2 separate regions of the Homo sapiens genome follow, and region 1 is linked to region 2. A link means that fine-mapping ties the variant in region 2 to the expression of a gene that starts in the linked region. Tissue or cell type: whole blood. Region 2 holds a variant in brackets; the other region holds the start of a gene. All regions are shown on one strand. Distances are from middle to middle.

Region 1 (8,110 bases), 87 kb after region 2:
TTTTTTGTTTGTTTGTTTGTTTGTTTGTTATTTTGAGACGGAGTCTCGCTCTGTCACCCCAGCTGGAGTGCAGTGGCATGATCTTGACTCACTGCAACCACCACCTCCCTGGTTCAAGGGATTCTCCCACCTCAGCCTCCCAAGTAACTGGGATTACAGGCATGTGCCACTGCACTCAGCAACTTTTTGTATTTTTGGTAGAGATGGGGTTTCTCCATGTTGGCCAGGCTGGTCTGGAACTCCTGACCTCAAGTGATCCAACTGCCTCTGCCTCCCAAAGTGCTGGGATTACAGGCGTGAGCCACTGCACCCAGCCTTCATTGTGTTTTTTTCTTAATTTCCCAAGTATCCATCAAAAATTCATCCCATGGCTGTGGGCAGTGGCTCATGCCTATAATCCCAGCACTTTGGGAGGCTGAGATGGGAGGATCACTTGAGACCAGGAGTTTGAGACCAGCCTGGGCAACATGGCAAGACCCTGCCTCTACAAAAATTTAAACAAATTAGCTGGGTGTGGAGGCACACCTGTGGTTCCAGCTACTTGGGAGACTGGGGCAACAGGATTGCTTGAGCCTGGAGGTTGAGGCTTTACTAAGCCATGTTCATACCAGTGCACTCCGGTCTGGGCAACAGAGCAAGACCCTGTCTCAAAAAAAAAAAAAAAAAAATTCATCCCAAGTATTCCATCATATCTGCCAAACACCTATCAAAGTTATTTTCAAATTACCTAAGTACATGAGCTTATTCGTGACACTCACTACCACCACCCCAAGGCTTATTCCTCTGCTCTTCTGCCCCAGCCTGAGGTGGTTATTAAAGTAATTATTCTCCAAAGATGCTTCCCCTACCACTCCAATGAACCACACTTCCTCGCATTCACATCCTTGTATTGCTCCCTCCACTTGAATTCTCTGGGATGGCCTTATAATTTGCCTTTTGACCAATAAAATACTGTAAAAATGATACTGAATGTTACCTAAGGCTAGGTCATAAGAACCTTTGTGGATTATTCCTGAGCATGTTGGAATGCTAATTTTTGAGAAAGCCAGATCCTATGTAAAAAATCCAACTACTCTGAGACCACCATACTGTAAGGAAGCCCAAGCTTCCATGTAGAAAGGTCATGTGGAGAGAGACAGTTGTCAGTCCAGCCCCTATCTCTTCTAGTCATTCTATTAATTTGCTAGACATACAAGTCCAGCTAGAAGTGTCATTTTGGATGATCAGTCATGTGAGTGAGAAAGTTATCTTGGACAAATAGTCCAATCTAGTCTTGAGATAGCCACTGTCACTGGGTGAGAGCTACCCAGCTGAACACTGTCATCCCAGGGAATCATGAAAAGTACATTGACATTGTTCAGGCACTAGGTTTTGGGGTGGTTTGTGATGCAGTGAAACAGTTCCCCTCTAGGTCTGTTCTGCAGTTTTCTTTGTGAAATTTTTCTTCCCTGGAGTTAGATGTCATGTTTTCTGGACCCCATGACTTTCTGTTTCCTGGTTATTTCTCCCGTTTTGCTACAGATTTCTCTTCCATAACTTCTAGGAAAGGAAGTATAGTAAGTAAATTTTGAATCTATGTCCAAAAAGGCCTTTATTATGATCTTACATTTGAGAAATAGATTGTCTGCGAGTAGGATTCTAGGTTGAAATTAAATTTCTCCTCTGGATTTTTTTTTTTTTTTTTGGACACAGGTTCTCTGTCTGTTTTCCAGGCTGGAGTGCAGTGGCACAATCTCAGCTCACTACAACCTTCACCTCCCGGGCTCAAGCAATCCTCCCACCTCAGCCTCTGGAGTAGCTAGGACCACAGGTGCGCATCACCACACTCGGCCAATTTTTTGTATTTTTGGCAGATATAGATTTTCTTTTCCTCTTTTTTTTTTTTTTTTTGATGGAGTCTCCTTCTGTCACCCAGGCTGGAGTGCAGTAGCATGATCTCAGCTCACTGCAACATCTGCCTCCTGGGTTCAAGTGATTCTCCTGCCTCAGCCTCCCAAGTAGCTAGGATTACAGGCATGCACCACCACACCCAGCTAATTTTTGTATTTTTAGTAGCGACCAGTTTTGCCATGTTGCTGGGACTTGTCTTGAACTCCTGACCTCAAATGATCTGCCCGTCTTGGCCTCCCAAAGTGCTGGGATTACAGGCGTGAGCCGCCACGCCCGGCTGATACAGGTTTTTACCATGTTGCCCAGGCTATTCTGGAACTCCTGGACTCAAGTGATCCACCCACTTTGGCCTCTTAAAATGCTGGGATTACAGATGTGAGCCACCACACTCGGCCTTCCCTCTGAATTTTGAAGGCATTCGTGCATTATTTTCTAGCTTTGTTGTTTGGAACAACAATGCCATTCTATTTCCAAATCCATTCAGTGCAATATGTTGTTCTTTCTCTCTGGAGTCTTTTCGTATCTTTTCTTTATGTCTGATGTTCTCATATTACATGATAATGTCTTGCTTTTTGGGGATATTTTTATTCATTGAGTTTAGCATTTGATTGACCCGCTCAATACTGAGAGTCATCTCCTTTAGTTACGAGAGTCTTTCCTTTATTATTTCTTTAGTAATTTCCTCTCCTCTATTTTCTTTTTTAATGTTCTGAAACAATCCTAGTCCTTTGACTTTGTAGATGGTTATAATTTCTAACAAATTTTCTTAACTTTATTTTTCAAAACTTCCATAAAATTCGGGACATTTTTATAATGTCTATGTTCTTTTTCATGAATGTAAAATCTTTCTTTCTGAGAAAATATTAGCTTTTTAAAAAGTTTTTGAAGTTCTCTTTAGCTCTCCCTGTTATTTTTGTCTCTTTTTTATGTTAAATGCTTTCCTCAAATGTCTGATGATCCCTGGTTATCTGTTCATATCTGAAAGGGACACTAAAGACTCATTAACAGTTCTGCATGCATGGCTGAGGCTCATGCACTGATGAACTTATTGAAGGAGGGTTGAGTGGTTTTGTTGGGGAACACTCAAAACTATAAATATCTGAAAATGTTTTATTGGGACCACTTAGTTTATCCAGAGATTAAATCCTCCAGTTTCCTGGGATAGAATGGGGAAAGGATCCCTTGGTTCTGTGGGCATTCAGTGGGAAGATTCACTCTGAATCCCGTTATTTTCATCCCTGCTCATGTTAGTCTGGCTTCTCTGGGTCTAGAACCTCACCTGATATTTAGATTTTTCACTGATACCTTCAGTAGAAGCAATGTTGAATGTTTGAGGTTTGCTGGCTGTTTACAATCAATTAAGGATTTTTAAAAATCTAGAACATTTGTGAATTCTTATATTTTCTTCCTGGTACTAAGTAGGAGCTAGCCACAGGTAGGCCTCATCATATGGATACATTACCCAAACGGTCACAGGTCAAAGGACAATGTAGTGATTAACCATAAGCTTTGGAATCAGGAAGTTCTGGGCTTCAGTGTCTTCCTAAAACTTAAAAAAAAATTTAATTTTTTTATTAAACTTTTTTTTAAATAAAAAATTGAGATGGGGTTTCGCCATGTTGATCAGGCTGGTCTCAAACTCCTGGCCTCAAGCGATCCTCCCATCTCGGCCTCCCTAAGTGCTAGGATTACAGGTGTGAGCCACTGTGCCTGTCCTCACTTTTCTTTCTCCATTATTAGGGCAAGGAGGCCAGGGGACAGGGTGAGGGAGAACCTAGAATGGGAATGGAGGCAACTTTCAGTCTAACTATGCTTTGGCCCCATGAGGAATCTACATGTAAACACTTGCCAGTATGGAGAGTCAATTGCACTTTGTGACAGGCTGTACAGCAGTTGGGACAACTGTGGCACATGCACAGGTTATACAGGCATATTTGCACCAGCACATGCATGGATGCTTGTGCACATATAGGAAACCCACTATACACATGGACAAAGAAGCACAAGTATGTCCACGCCATCCCTCCACACACACACTAGTCACCAGGAGAAAAGGGCTCAGCACATTTCATCATGCATCGCCCATTGGGGGAAGCCATGTAGGACAGGAGAAAGGGAAGATTATGAGGCAAAAAGAGAAATGAAACTAAAGAGTCCCACCCTGTCAGCATTAACTGGGATATAAGAGGTTGGGCTTTGGATAGATAGACAGACTCCTGGGTCCGGTCAACCGTCAAAATGTCCAAAGAACCTCTCATTCTCTGGCTGATGATTGAGTTTTGGTGGCTTTACCTGAGTAAGTGTTCTGAAACCTTCTATGTAGAAGTTTCCAGAGGACTTGCTATTGTGTGATGGATTTCCATGCACTGGTTTGGGCCTCAGTGAAGCAGAAGCTCACTTCATTTCTGCATCCCTCCCCTCTCCCTACCAGGCTTCCTTCTGTGGAGGGTCTCTGTCCTGCCTTGTTACACAGAGGTTTATCCAGAGACTGGTCTGGGGGTTTTAGGCTGGGGTAATTTGGGCTTATATTGGAAACAGCAACTGAAGAAGAGACACAGAAATAAGTGGTCAGATAAATTGGGGAAAAGAGATTTCCTCTATGGGTGTTATTCATATAATCAATAAGCCAGGAGAATTTGTTCTGGTGAGAATTGTGATAATTCTTATCATTCCCTCTGTTTTTAGAAGTGTTTGCTTTTTGTTTTGTTTTGCTGGGGTGAGGCTTTATGTAAGGTTTCTTTTCTGCACGTTGTTTTTGGGTTTTGGATGATGCAAGTGTACACACTCAGTTTTGGCCAGTGAAGTTCTTTGCATCCTGGTGGTATAGAGCCAAGTGTTCTGGCCTGAGCTGCAGCTGCGTCTCGGGCACTAACTGTTGACACTGGGAATATGTCTAAATTGCTCTGGCTCTCCCATATTTGAAATGAGAGACCTGGCTTTTTAAATGACCAGTTGTCACAATCTGTGCTTCTAGGACAAGATAATATTGAATGGCCCTTGCAGTTTTACAAAAGTCCATTTTTTTTTTAAATGGATACAAAATAACTATACATATTTATGGGCTACATATGTGTTATTTTGATATATACATACAATGTACAATGATCGAATCAGGGTAGTTGGGATATTCATTTCTTGAAACATTTAAATTTCTTTGTGCTGAGAACATTTCAAATGTTCTCTTCTAGTTATTTTGAAATACACAAGAAATTATTAATAACAATAGGCACCCCACTATGCTATCAAACACTAGGACTTATTCCTTCTATTTAATTGTATTTTTTCCCTTTTTCCTCATGTTCTAACTAACTGTATTTTTGTACCCATTAACCTGCCTTTCTTCATACCCCTTTTCCCCTATCCTTTGTAGACTCCAGTGACTATCATTCTATTCTCCACTTTCATGAGATCAACTTTTTTAGCTCTCATGTATGAGTGGGAACATGCAATATTTGTCTTTCTGTGCCTAGCTTAACTTAACACAATATTAATAAACTCTGTTTCCATCCATGTTGTTGCAAATGACTGAGTTTCATTCTTTTTTTATGGCTGAATATTCTACTGTGTTTATATACCACATTTTCTTTTTTTTTTTCTTTCTTTTTTTTTTTTTTTTTTTTTTTTTTTTGAGACGGAGTCTCGCTCTTTTGCCTAGGCCGGACTGCAGTGGCACTATCTCTATCTCGGCTCACTGCAAGCTCTGCCTCCTGGGTCCACGCCATTCTCCTGCCTCAGCCTCCCAAGTAGCTGGGACTATGGGCGCCTGCCACCATGCCTGGCTAATTTTTGTATTTTTAGTAGAGACGGGGTTTCACCATATTGGTCAGGCTGGTCTTGAACTCCTGACCTCAGGCGATCCACTCACCTCGGCCTCCCAAAGTGCTGGGCTTATAGGCGTGAGTCACCGCACCTGGCCATATACCACATTTTCTTTATCCATTCATCCATTGATGGACACGTAGGTTGCTTCTATATCTTGGCTATCGTGCATAGTGCTGTAATAAACATGGGAGAGTAAATATCTCTTTAATTGATTTCCTTTCTTTGGGATATATCCCCAGTAGTGGGATTGTTGGATCATATGGTAATTCTATTTTTAGTTTTTTAAGGAATCACCATACTGTTTCCCATAATGGCTGTAGTAATTTACATTCCCACCAACAGCGTACGAGAGTTCCTCTTTCTTTGCGTCCTCGCCAGCAATGCTTGCTTTTTGTCTTTTTGATAGTAGCCATTTTATCAGAAATGAAGTGATACCTCATTGTGGTTTGGATTTGCATTTCCCCAGTGATTAGCAATGTTAAACATTTTTTCTTCTACCTCTTGGCTCTTTGTATGTGCAGAAACCTTTCCAACATGGTGCATGAGAAAACACCCATATTTGAAGGAAAACAAATGTGTTTCATCACCTCTCAAACTTGTACTATTCTCTCTGCCTTTCTTTCCTCCGTAGTGCCATGCATCCTCAGGTCCCTACTTAATTCAGGCTTTTCCTGGCTACCTTGTAGCCTCTGGAATAGTTCAGGTGTTTCTGCTATGAGTTCGCATCCTCCTTGGAGTTCCTGCATCTGTAAACTTGTCACTCTATAGCAAATGCTCACTCATTTGACTATCTTCCTAGGTACTCTGCAGGCCCCATGAGGGCAGCCCAGGTCTGCTTTGTGGCTTGTTATATTCCAGCACCTAGTTCCACCCTTGATACATTATAGGCACTGAAGAAACAATCTACAGGCCAGGGGTGGTGGCTCATGCCTATAATCCTGGCATTTTGGGAGGCCGAGGTTGGTGGATCACCCGAGGTCAGGAATTTGTGACCAGCCTGGCCAACATGGTGAAACCCCGTCTCTACTAAAAATATAAAAATTAGCCAGGCGTGGTGACATGTGCCTGTAATCCCAGCTACTCAGGAGGCTGAGGCAGGAGAATCGCTTGAACTAGAGAGGCAGAGGTTGCAGTGAGCCGAGATTGCACCACTGCACTCCAGCCTGGGTGACAGAGTGAGACTCTTTCTGAAAAAAAAAAAAAAAAAAAGGGGGAAGAAAAAAACAATCTACAGAATGAAAGCAGTCCCTGTCACTTTCACACTTATATTTTGGGTTTGGTATGGGTTTGTTTGGATGTAAGAAAGCTACCATCTGCCTTTTCATCAATTTTTTTTTACTGTCTTTGTCTTATCCTGGAAACTTGAAGTTTGGAAGGTTTTGTTAGGTTGAAAGTTGCAGGGGTCTATGTCTACATGTCCTGCTACTAGCAAGACACTGGTTGAGGGGAATTTTCTAATCCTGCTTGAAGGAGGCAGCACCTGGTGAGCTGTTTTTTGTTTTATTTTGTTTTTTTTTTCATAGGTGCCTTTTCTTTTTTCTTTTGTTTTTCAAAATATTTTTGGGTTTTTTCGAGACAGAGTCTCACTCCAATGCCCAGGCTGGAGTGCAATGGTGCAATCTCGGCTCACTGCAACTTCTGCCTCCCAGGCTCAAGCAATTCTCCTGCCCCAGCCTCCCAAGTAGCTGAGATTGCAGGCGCCCGCCACCACAGCTGGCTAATTTTTTGTATTTTTTAGTAGAGACAGGGTTTCACCATATTTGGCCAGGCTGGTCTTGAACTCCTGACCTCAGGTGATCCACCTGTATCAGCCTCCCAAAGTGCTGGGATTACAGGTGTGAGCCACCACACCCGGCCTATATGTGCCTTTTCTAAGATAACCAAATTAAAAGAGAGTGACTGCTCAGAATCACCAAGGATCAGAGCTGGATGTACTCTTAAAAGATGCCCTTCACTCTGTAGATGGCAATTTTGAGACTCAGATTGGGGAAGGGCCAGCCTTGCTTAAGCTCACCAGCTATGGAAGGAACCAAGCTGGCATAAGGACCTAGGTTGTATCCACCATTCCAGGTAGCTCCACAGAAGTGAAACTGGTTTGATACCAACAATTGCTTTACTCAGGGATACTTTTACAACAGACAGGAACCATTTTTTTTTGTCTTATTTCTAAATTCTAATGTCCTTTGTTACGCGTATTAATACTTTGTTAATTTCACGTGGCATTTGTTACTCCTCTTCAAGTGGAGCTCAGAACCATTTCTGAGGTGAGTATTATCCCCTTTGCCTTGTGATGATAATGAGGTCAGGATTATCATGGCTTTCCTCCAACAACACAAAAGCAGTAAATGGCAGAATGGGGTTTACAATGTGAGCTTAATGGATGTTGTTCCTGCCATAC
Region 2 (8,110 bases):
AGACAGAGTCTTTCTCTGTCGCCCAGGCTGGGGTGCAGTGATGCGATCTCAGCTCACTGCAACCTCTGCCTCCTGGGTTCAAGCAATTCTCCTGCCTCGGCCTCCTGAGTAGCTGGGACTACAGGTGCGCACCACCATGCCTGGCTAATTTTTGTATTTTTAGTAAAGATGGGGTTTCATCATGTTGGCCAAGCTGGTCTCAAACTCCTGACCTCAGGCAGTCTACCCGCCTCGGCCTCCCAAAGTGCTGGGATTACAGGCGTGAGCTGCCGCGCCCGGCCGTTGCTGTTTCTTAATGAATCTTCTTCCACTAAGGTCTTACAATGATAATAGAACCCAATACCTACGACCTTAATAAGCTATGTCTCTATTTTCGTTTTAATTAAGAGGAATTTTAATTTGCAGTCTCTTAGCTTTTGGACTTGGATTGTTTCCCTTATAAGGGTGAGCAAGATGAGGTCAATTCTTTTTTTCTTTTTTTTTTTTAAGACAGGGTCTCGCTCTGTTTCTCAGGCTGGAGTGCAGTGGCCCAGTCTCTACTCACTGCAACCTCCACCTCTGGGGTTCATCAATCCTTATGCCTCAGCCTTTCAAGTAGCTGAGATTTCAGGCATGTGTCATCACACTTGACTATTTTTTGTAGAGATGGGGTTTCACCTGTTGCCCAGGCTGGTCTGGAACTCTGAACTCCTGAGCTGAAGTAGTCCACCCACCTTGGCCCCATAAAGTGCTGGGATTACAGGCGTGAGCCACCACGCCCAGTCTCTACAAAAAAAGTTTTTTTAAAAATTAGCCGGGTGTGGTGATGCCTGCATGTAGTCCCAGCTACTTGGGAAGCTGACACAGGAGGATTGCTTCAGCCTGGGAGTTCGAGGCAGCAGTGAGTTGATCATGCCACTGCAGTCCGGCCTGGATGACAGAGTGAGACCCTGCCCCCAAAAAAGTGCTTCAGTGCAAATATGAGGCGTCTGTTCTTATTTGCTGAATATGCATGCACCTTTCAATACATCTGCTTTTCTTTTGGAAGGAGGGGTATGTCTCCAAGGCCCTCTCCTGTCACAGTTTCTAGCTGGGCAATGACCAAGATTGACAGTTCAGGAAGTTAACTCCACCTAGGGACAGTCTGTCATTGGTGTGCTAGGGTACAGTTCCAGCCTGAGGCTCTTGTTTCTTGTTTGACTTATGCTCACTCTCATGTTGATTTCTGACTCCAGCCAAGGTCACGACTACTCCAATTGTCACAACTGTTCCAACCGTCACGACTGTTCGAACGAGCACCACTGTTCCAACGACAACGACTGTTCCAATGACGACTGTTCCAACGACAACTGTTCCAACAACAATGAGCATTCCAACGACAACGACTGTTCTGACGACAATGACTGTTTCAACGACAACGAGCGTTCCAACGACAACGAGCATTCCAACAACAACAAGTGTTCCAGTGACAACAACTGTCTCTACCTTTGTTCCTCCAATGCCTTTGCCCAGGCAGAACCATGAACCAGGTAAAACAGATGTGTTTGGAAGCCCAAAGGCCTTCTAATGAGGAGCTGCGGACCATCCAGGGCATTGTATCAAGGTAGAAGGACAGTCTAGAGTGAGGGGTCTTACCTGGGTTTCAATCAGGGTCTCCTCAGGGTTTGTGATCCTCCCCAACTCCCAAGTTGTATGCGTCTTTTGCACCAATGAGCATTTTTGGAGTGAGGGGACCCATTGCTTTTTGTCAATTCTCAAAGAAATTGATTATTAACCAAAAATAGCTGGACCACGGATGTAGAACATCTAACAGGGATACTGTGGATCTGACTCAGCTAGGTATGGCTTTATGATGAAAACACAGGGAATGCCAGAGAACCAAGGTCAGATAAATGAGATAGTGTCCTCACGAAGAGCTCTGAAGAGAGATCATTTAGTCCATTCTGAAAGCAGACCTTGATTTCAGAGAAGTTAACATTTACTGTTTTCTATCTACCAGGCACCATGCCTCATGCATTTAATTCTTAGGATAATTATATCCACTGTAGGTGTGGTTTATAATTGTTAGAACTGAGACAGAGTCTAAAAGTTCATTGTTGAAAGTTACACAGATAGAAGCCAGGTGCGGTGGCTCATGACTGTAATTTTAGCCGAGGAGTTCAAAACCAGCCTGGGCAACATAGTGAGAGACCTTGTCTCTACATGGTGGTGCATGCCTCTAGTCCCAGCCACTTGGGAGGCTGAGGTGGAGGAATCGCTTGGGGCCGGGAGGTCAAGTCTACAGTGAGCCATGATTGCACCACTGCACTCTAGCCTGGGTAACAGAGTGAAAAAGAAAGAAAAGAGAAAGAAAAAAGAAATTTACACAGATAGAAAGTGGTCGAGTCACGTTTTGATCTCTGTTAGCTTGAAATAGGGCCAGTACTTTTAACTACTGGATCATGCCTCCTATTATCAGCACTGAGTTTTATGTTTGGATGAGTTTGCCCTGATCTAACATTTTTACTGAAAAAAACCCTTAAACAACCACACTGTCTTTTCAGGGTAGTCAATGACTTACACATTTTTACTTCAAAGGTCCTTTAATTTATTTATGTACAGTGGAAATTGCAAAAGGTGTGATTTATACTTAGGAAAAAGTAACATTGGATTTAAGGGCTTTAGGGATTTAGAATGTACAGTTTATTTTTTTCAGTTCAGGCCATATAGTTGATACTTCAAATTCCCTGTAAATAAGACATTAGATTTAATACAAATAGAGGATAACTTGACTTATAGGTAGGGAAATAGCTTGTCATTCTGAGGACAAGTATAGGTTCAAATCTTCCATTTTCGGGATTTAAAAGATAACTTTTAGTGGAGATTCTCAAAGCCCTCAGAAATCCATTGACCCCTTAGGGTGGCTCTGGATTCTGAGGAGTAACAAATGTCGCAGCCTCTTAGCTGGAAAAATCTGATGGAACATATTGATTTCCCTTGACTGCCATTGAATTGTGTGTTTAACCAGGAGAGATCTGAAGGGTTGGGCTAGTAGCTCAGTTTGAAATAGAGGGTGTTAATTAGGTCATACCTGGGATTTTAGAGCCATAAAAGTTTTGTAAGAAAAACAGTTTTGTTCCAGGCAGCCGCACACACTAGAGAGTCTGTTAGACTTTCTCAATGTTGATTTCACTTTCTAATACTTAGCTTGTGTCTGCTAAGGTGGATGGATTAGTGGACTGGTTTTGGAGAACATCCCCAAGTCACTGATTTCATTTAAAGCCGAGATATGGGAGAAAGTTGCCTTTCTCCTAAGAGTTGGTTTATATGGCTATAACTTGGAGGATGGTATCACTTGAGGTTATTCTTATCTGGATAGTTCTCTAAAGAGTTTGCATGAGTTGAACATTACAGTCCAGGAATGAGAGAACCCTGGAGCAAATAGAACGCAGGGACATTTATCTTTGCATCCAATCTTCCCTGCTCAGTGCCCCTAGTACCTGCTTGCTGCCTAAAACTCC[A/C]GGGAACAATTGTATGTATGGTTGTAGGAGCAGTGGAGAAAAGAAAGATGCCATAAGGACCCAAACTTAGGAAAGAAGTTAAGCTCAAGAGATCTTTTGCACAGAACTCAATTGGGTACAGACTGCCCACGTGACTCTCCTGTGTTGTTCTGTTTTTCGTTCCGAAAGAGAGCCACATCCTCTTACAGGTTTGAGCACTAGAGGAAAACAGGAAAAAGTTGAGAACAGGAGAAAGAGCGATGTTGAAAAGTGAAGTTATTGAGACTGTGGTGGAGAAAGAGAAACAGACCAGTGAGAGGCAATAAGGAAAGCCAGGTTTGGGAATTCATCCAGTCACCGTCACTAATTGACTCTAAATTTCTGTGGTGCTCTAAGAGAAGGGAATCATGTAAATGCTTTGTGAAGAGGCAAGTGATCAACTTTGCAAATAAGGTGAGATATCTGATAGGAAATAAAGGAGGGATTTCAGGAAAGGAAAGGGGAATGTAGCCCTATGCTGGAGAATTCCTAATGGAAGCTTTACCGTGAGAAGTGTAAGATGAGTCAGAAAACACAGGAAATCACCCCTAAAGGAATGACTAGAATGCAGATGCAGAAGGAGCTGGGGTCAGGTCCTGCCAGGAACCTTACCTTTAGGGTTGTAAATCATTACCAAGGCTGACATTGGGCAATATTGTCAGCTTTAAGAGACCTCAAGGAATTAATATTGTATCTATTCTCTGTTAGTTATTAGATGTGTGGATAATTGAACTTGAGTAAGGCCAGGAAACCCAGAATGGGGCTGTTGTGAAGGGGGTAGGGCATGTTAGTGCAAATTCCTAAGCCCCCATTTTCTGAAAGTGAAATATCACTTGTATGAATAAAATAAAGCTTAATTGGGTATTCTACATAAAATGCCCTGTTGTTGGCTTTGTCTATTTAGAGGGAACCTGGGAGTATAGAAAGTTTGAGATAATCGTATATATTGACTATGTGGAACATTATCTAGATCGCATTTCCTCATGTTAATGAGATAATTAGATAGCAGGGCAATGCCTGAAGGCCATCTTTGAATACATTTCTAAGAGGAGCCGAAAGGTTCAGAAGTGGGTCGGTAGAAGCCCTGCATGCCCACTGTGGAAGGCCAGGAGAAGGGCCCATGGAAAGGTGATGGTAATTCCTGATTCTAGTTTTGTTCTTTATTTTTCTTGGGGTGCACATTTTCCTCCACAAATGGAACAATTCTTCCATTCTTTTCATTCCAGTAGCCACTTCACCATCTTCACCTCAGCCAGCAGAAACCCACCCTACGACACTGCAGGGAGCAATAAGGAGAGAACCCACCAGCTCACCATTGTACTCTTACACAACAGGTAACTGCGTTCTCTTTCCTGAAGACCTGGGATCATTCAAACCTTGATAACCATTGACTTTGTTGAGAGCACACGCTCTGGAATACGACTGATCTGAGTGCCAACACCAGGCACACAGATCAGTCATTTGACTTGTACAAATATCTACCCTTTCTGAATGTTTTGTCATTGGTGTGTGTGTGTGTGTGTGTGTTTTCTTTTTTTTTCTGAGATGGAGTCTCGCATTGTTGCCCAGGCTGGAGTGCAGTGGCACGATCTCGGCTCACTGCAAGCTCCGCCTCCCAGGTTCACGCCATTCTCCTGCCTCAGCCTCCCGAGTAGCTGGGACTACAGGCGCCCGCCACCACGCCCGGCTAATTTTTTGTATTTTTAGTAGAGTCGGGGTTTCACCGTCTTAGTCACGATTGTCTCGATCTCCTGACCTCGTGATCTGCCCGCCTCCACCTCCCAAAGTGCTGGGATTACAGGCATCAGCCACCGTGCCCAGCTGTTTTGTCATTTGTAAAAAGGATGTAATACCAAGATCTTGCAGAATGCTTGTGAGGATCAAATGGGATGAAAGATTTGGGACATGGTTACAGGGGGTAAGTGATAAATATAATAGCAGCTATTATTATTATTCCTTAGAACATCAAGAATCCAAATGCCTGACTGCACAGATAGCTTATGTGATTTGGAAACATCCACATGCATATTACCTTGTTTTTAGAAATCAAATCAACCAGTCTTGAATCTGAACATATTATTTTGACTTGATTCCTTGGGCCAGGGCCTTAAAACAATTAAATCCAGCCCTCTGATGTTTAGCTCAAACACCAGACCCTATGCTTCTGACAAGTCCCAGACCCCAAAAAGTACCAGGAGGCTTCCACTGATTCATCAAATTTGTATTTACATGAGCATTCTCAGATGGGGCTATGATTTGAATGTTTGTGTCCTCGCTATTAAGGGAAACTCCCAAACTGGGTTTTCTGTCTCTTCTCACACCACGTCAACAACAATCATCAACTCAGATGAAGACTTCTGTGACCGAATGTGTGGAGTTTTTTCCCCATACATCAAGCAGTGGACACCGGCTGTGTCTTTAATTCAGTTCTTACACTGTCTACCCGGAGAGAGGGTCATATCCCACAGGTAAGGGGCTCAGTCCCCAAGACTGCCCCTCCCAACCCCACCACACACACCAGTCACAAGTTCGGGTCTCTGGAACTTCTGAGCGGCCAGTTTCAAGTTGGGGTTCCCACAACCCTCTCTTTGGGTTCTATTAATTTCCTGGAGTGGCTTCCAGAACTCAGGGAAACACTTATGTTTACCAGATAATTATAAAGGATATTGCAAAGGATACTGATGATGAGATGCACAGGATGAGGTATATGGGAAAGGGTTCCATGCTCTTCCTTGGGAACTTCACCTTCTAGGAACCTCCAAGTGTTTGACTATCTGGAAGCTCTCAAAACCTAGTCTTCTTGTACTTTTTTTTTTTTTGAGACGGAGTCTTGCTCTGTCATCACCCAGGCTAGAGGGCAGTGACATGATCTTGGCTCACTGCAACCTCTGCTCCCAAGTTCAAGCAATTCTCCTGCCTCAGCTTTCCAAGTAGCTGGGATTACACGTATGCGTCATCCTGCCCGGCTAATTTTGTATTTTTAGTAGAGATGGGGTTTCATCATGTTGTCCAGGCTGGTCTTGAACTCCTGACCTCAGGTGATCTGCCCACCTCAGCCTTCCAAAGTGTTGAGATTACAGGCGTGAGCCACCGCACCCAGGCCTTTTGGGTTTTTATGGAAACTTCAAGACATCAACATTCCATCCCCCAGGGGCACAGGGAAGGACTCTCTCTGGGAAGTGTCTTATGACCCACAATCAGAAAGGCGGGGGAAATTAAAGTTCTGCCTTGTCAGGTGAAAGGAGAGCAGGAGAAAGTCCAATATTGTTTCCTGAGGTCAAACATACTTACCATGATAAGAAAAGACTATAATCAGGGATATGGGAGTTATGAGCCAGGAACCATGCACAGACCTCTATCTATCTATATATGTATGTATAATCTCATAACACCACACCCCTAAATTCATGTTGATAGATAATTCCCAAATTCATGTTGATAGCTAATTCCCAATGCAAGTATTAAGAGCTGGGGCCTTCGGAGCATGATTAGGTCATGAGAGCCCCGCCTTCATGAATGGAATCAATGCTCTTATAAAAGGCCCAAGTTACATTTTCTGGATGGGAGAGAAACAATAAATTAATTAGTTAAACAAAAAGAGGCCCAAGGGAACTTGTTTGACCCTTCCCCCATATAAGAACAAATAGAAGACACCATCTATAGGAAAGAGGACCCTCACTAGATTGAGTAATCAGCCTGTGCCTTGATCTTGGACTACCCAGCCTCGAACTGTGAGCAATAAATTTCTGTTTAAATTACCCAATCTAAGCTATCTTATCATAGCAGCCTGAACAGACTAAGACAGATGAGTTGAGGACACCCACACCAACATCAAAGAGGCATGACCCTCTGAGATCCTGCTACTCTGCTCCAAACAATCCTTACTATTCTTTCAAGTCTGAACAGGCCTCTTAGAGTCTCTGCTCCTTGGAAGTGTAGAATTGACCTGTCTTTCCTTGTGATGGAGAAAGTTGATGCTGAAACCTGTCATCTTTCCCAGCTAACTCTCCTTGTTTCCCTTAGTGGTAAGCTCTGGGAGTGCCCTGTGCTGAGCTCCTCTGTGATGCTGAGCTGGCTCTGTGTCCTTGTGTGGCATCCAAGCAAGGTCACACCTTGCAGGCCTCCTTGTGTGTATGACTCATTGTACTCAGCTGTTGCCAATCTGTAGGCAGCTGCTCCCCAGCCTACATGGCCTACTTTTTTTGCCAATCATTCCTGGTAGCTGGTTAATTTAAAATGGACCTGCAGTGTGATTCACAGAGGGACTCATTCAACTGGGATTAGATAATGGCGACATTTCGTTTTGAAAGTGTAATCCTCAGCGCAAACTGTTTCCAGGCACAAAAGCAAAATGAAAATAGATAAAAACACAACGTAACAGTGGTAGGAGCAGCTGCACCCCACTCTTTGAGAGTGTAAGGAGGAAGAAAGTAGGAGTGGGGAATCATTCTCCGAAATACTATGTCAGTGAAACCTGGTCAAAGTAGAGTTTTCCAGGTGGAACAGACAGTGGAGCAGCTGTATCCCCAGGATTTGTGTGGCTGCTGCCATTTTGGCCGTGGATCCAAGGCTCTTGGGCCAAGTTCTTACTGTGCCTGGGTTGGCCCTCAGTT

The links. PIP is the estimated chance that this variant, and not a neighbour inherited with it, causes the effect.
Region 1: it holds the start of TIMD4, and the variant in region 2 is fine-mapped to the expression of TIMD4 in whole blood (TOPMed, PIP 0.98).

The regions. Positions count from the first base shown.
Region 1 is chr5:156,959,217-156,967,326 of GRCh38, reverse strand. TIMD4 (T cell immunoglobulin and mucin domain containing 4) reads left to right here and starts at 4,101. Exons shown (of 9, transcript NM_138379.3): 1 at 4,101-4,186. The coding sequence starts at 4,129.
Region 2 is chr5:157,045,759-157,053,868 of GRCh38, reverse strand. It overlaps HAVCR1 (hepatitis A virus cellular receptor 1), which reads left to right. Exons shown (of 9, transcript NM_001173393.3): 4 at 1,215-1,508; 5 at 4,724-4,831. Among named protein-coding and RNA genes, the nearest start is that of HAVCR1, 9.3 kb to the left of the region's middle. RefSeq lists an enhancer at 3,166-3,725. The variant A/C (reference allele first, on the strand shown) is at 3,480.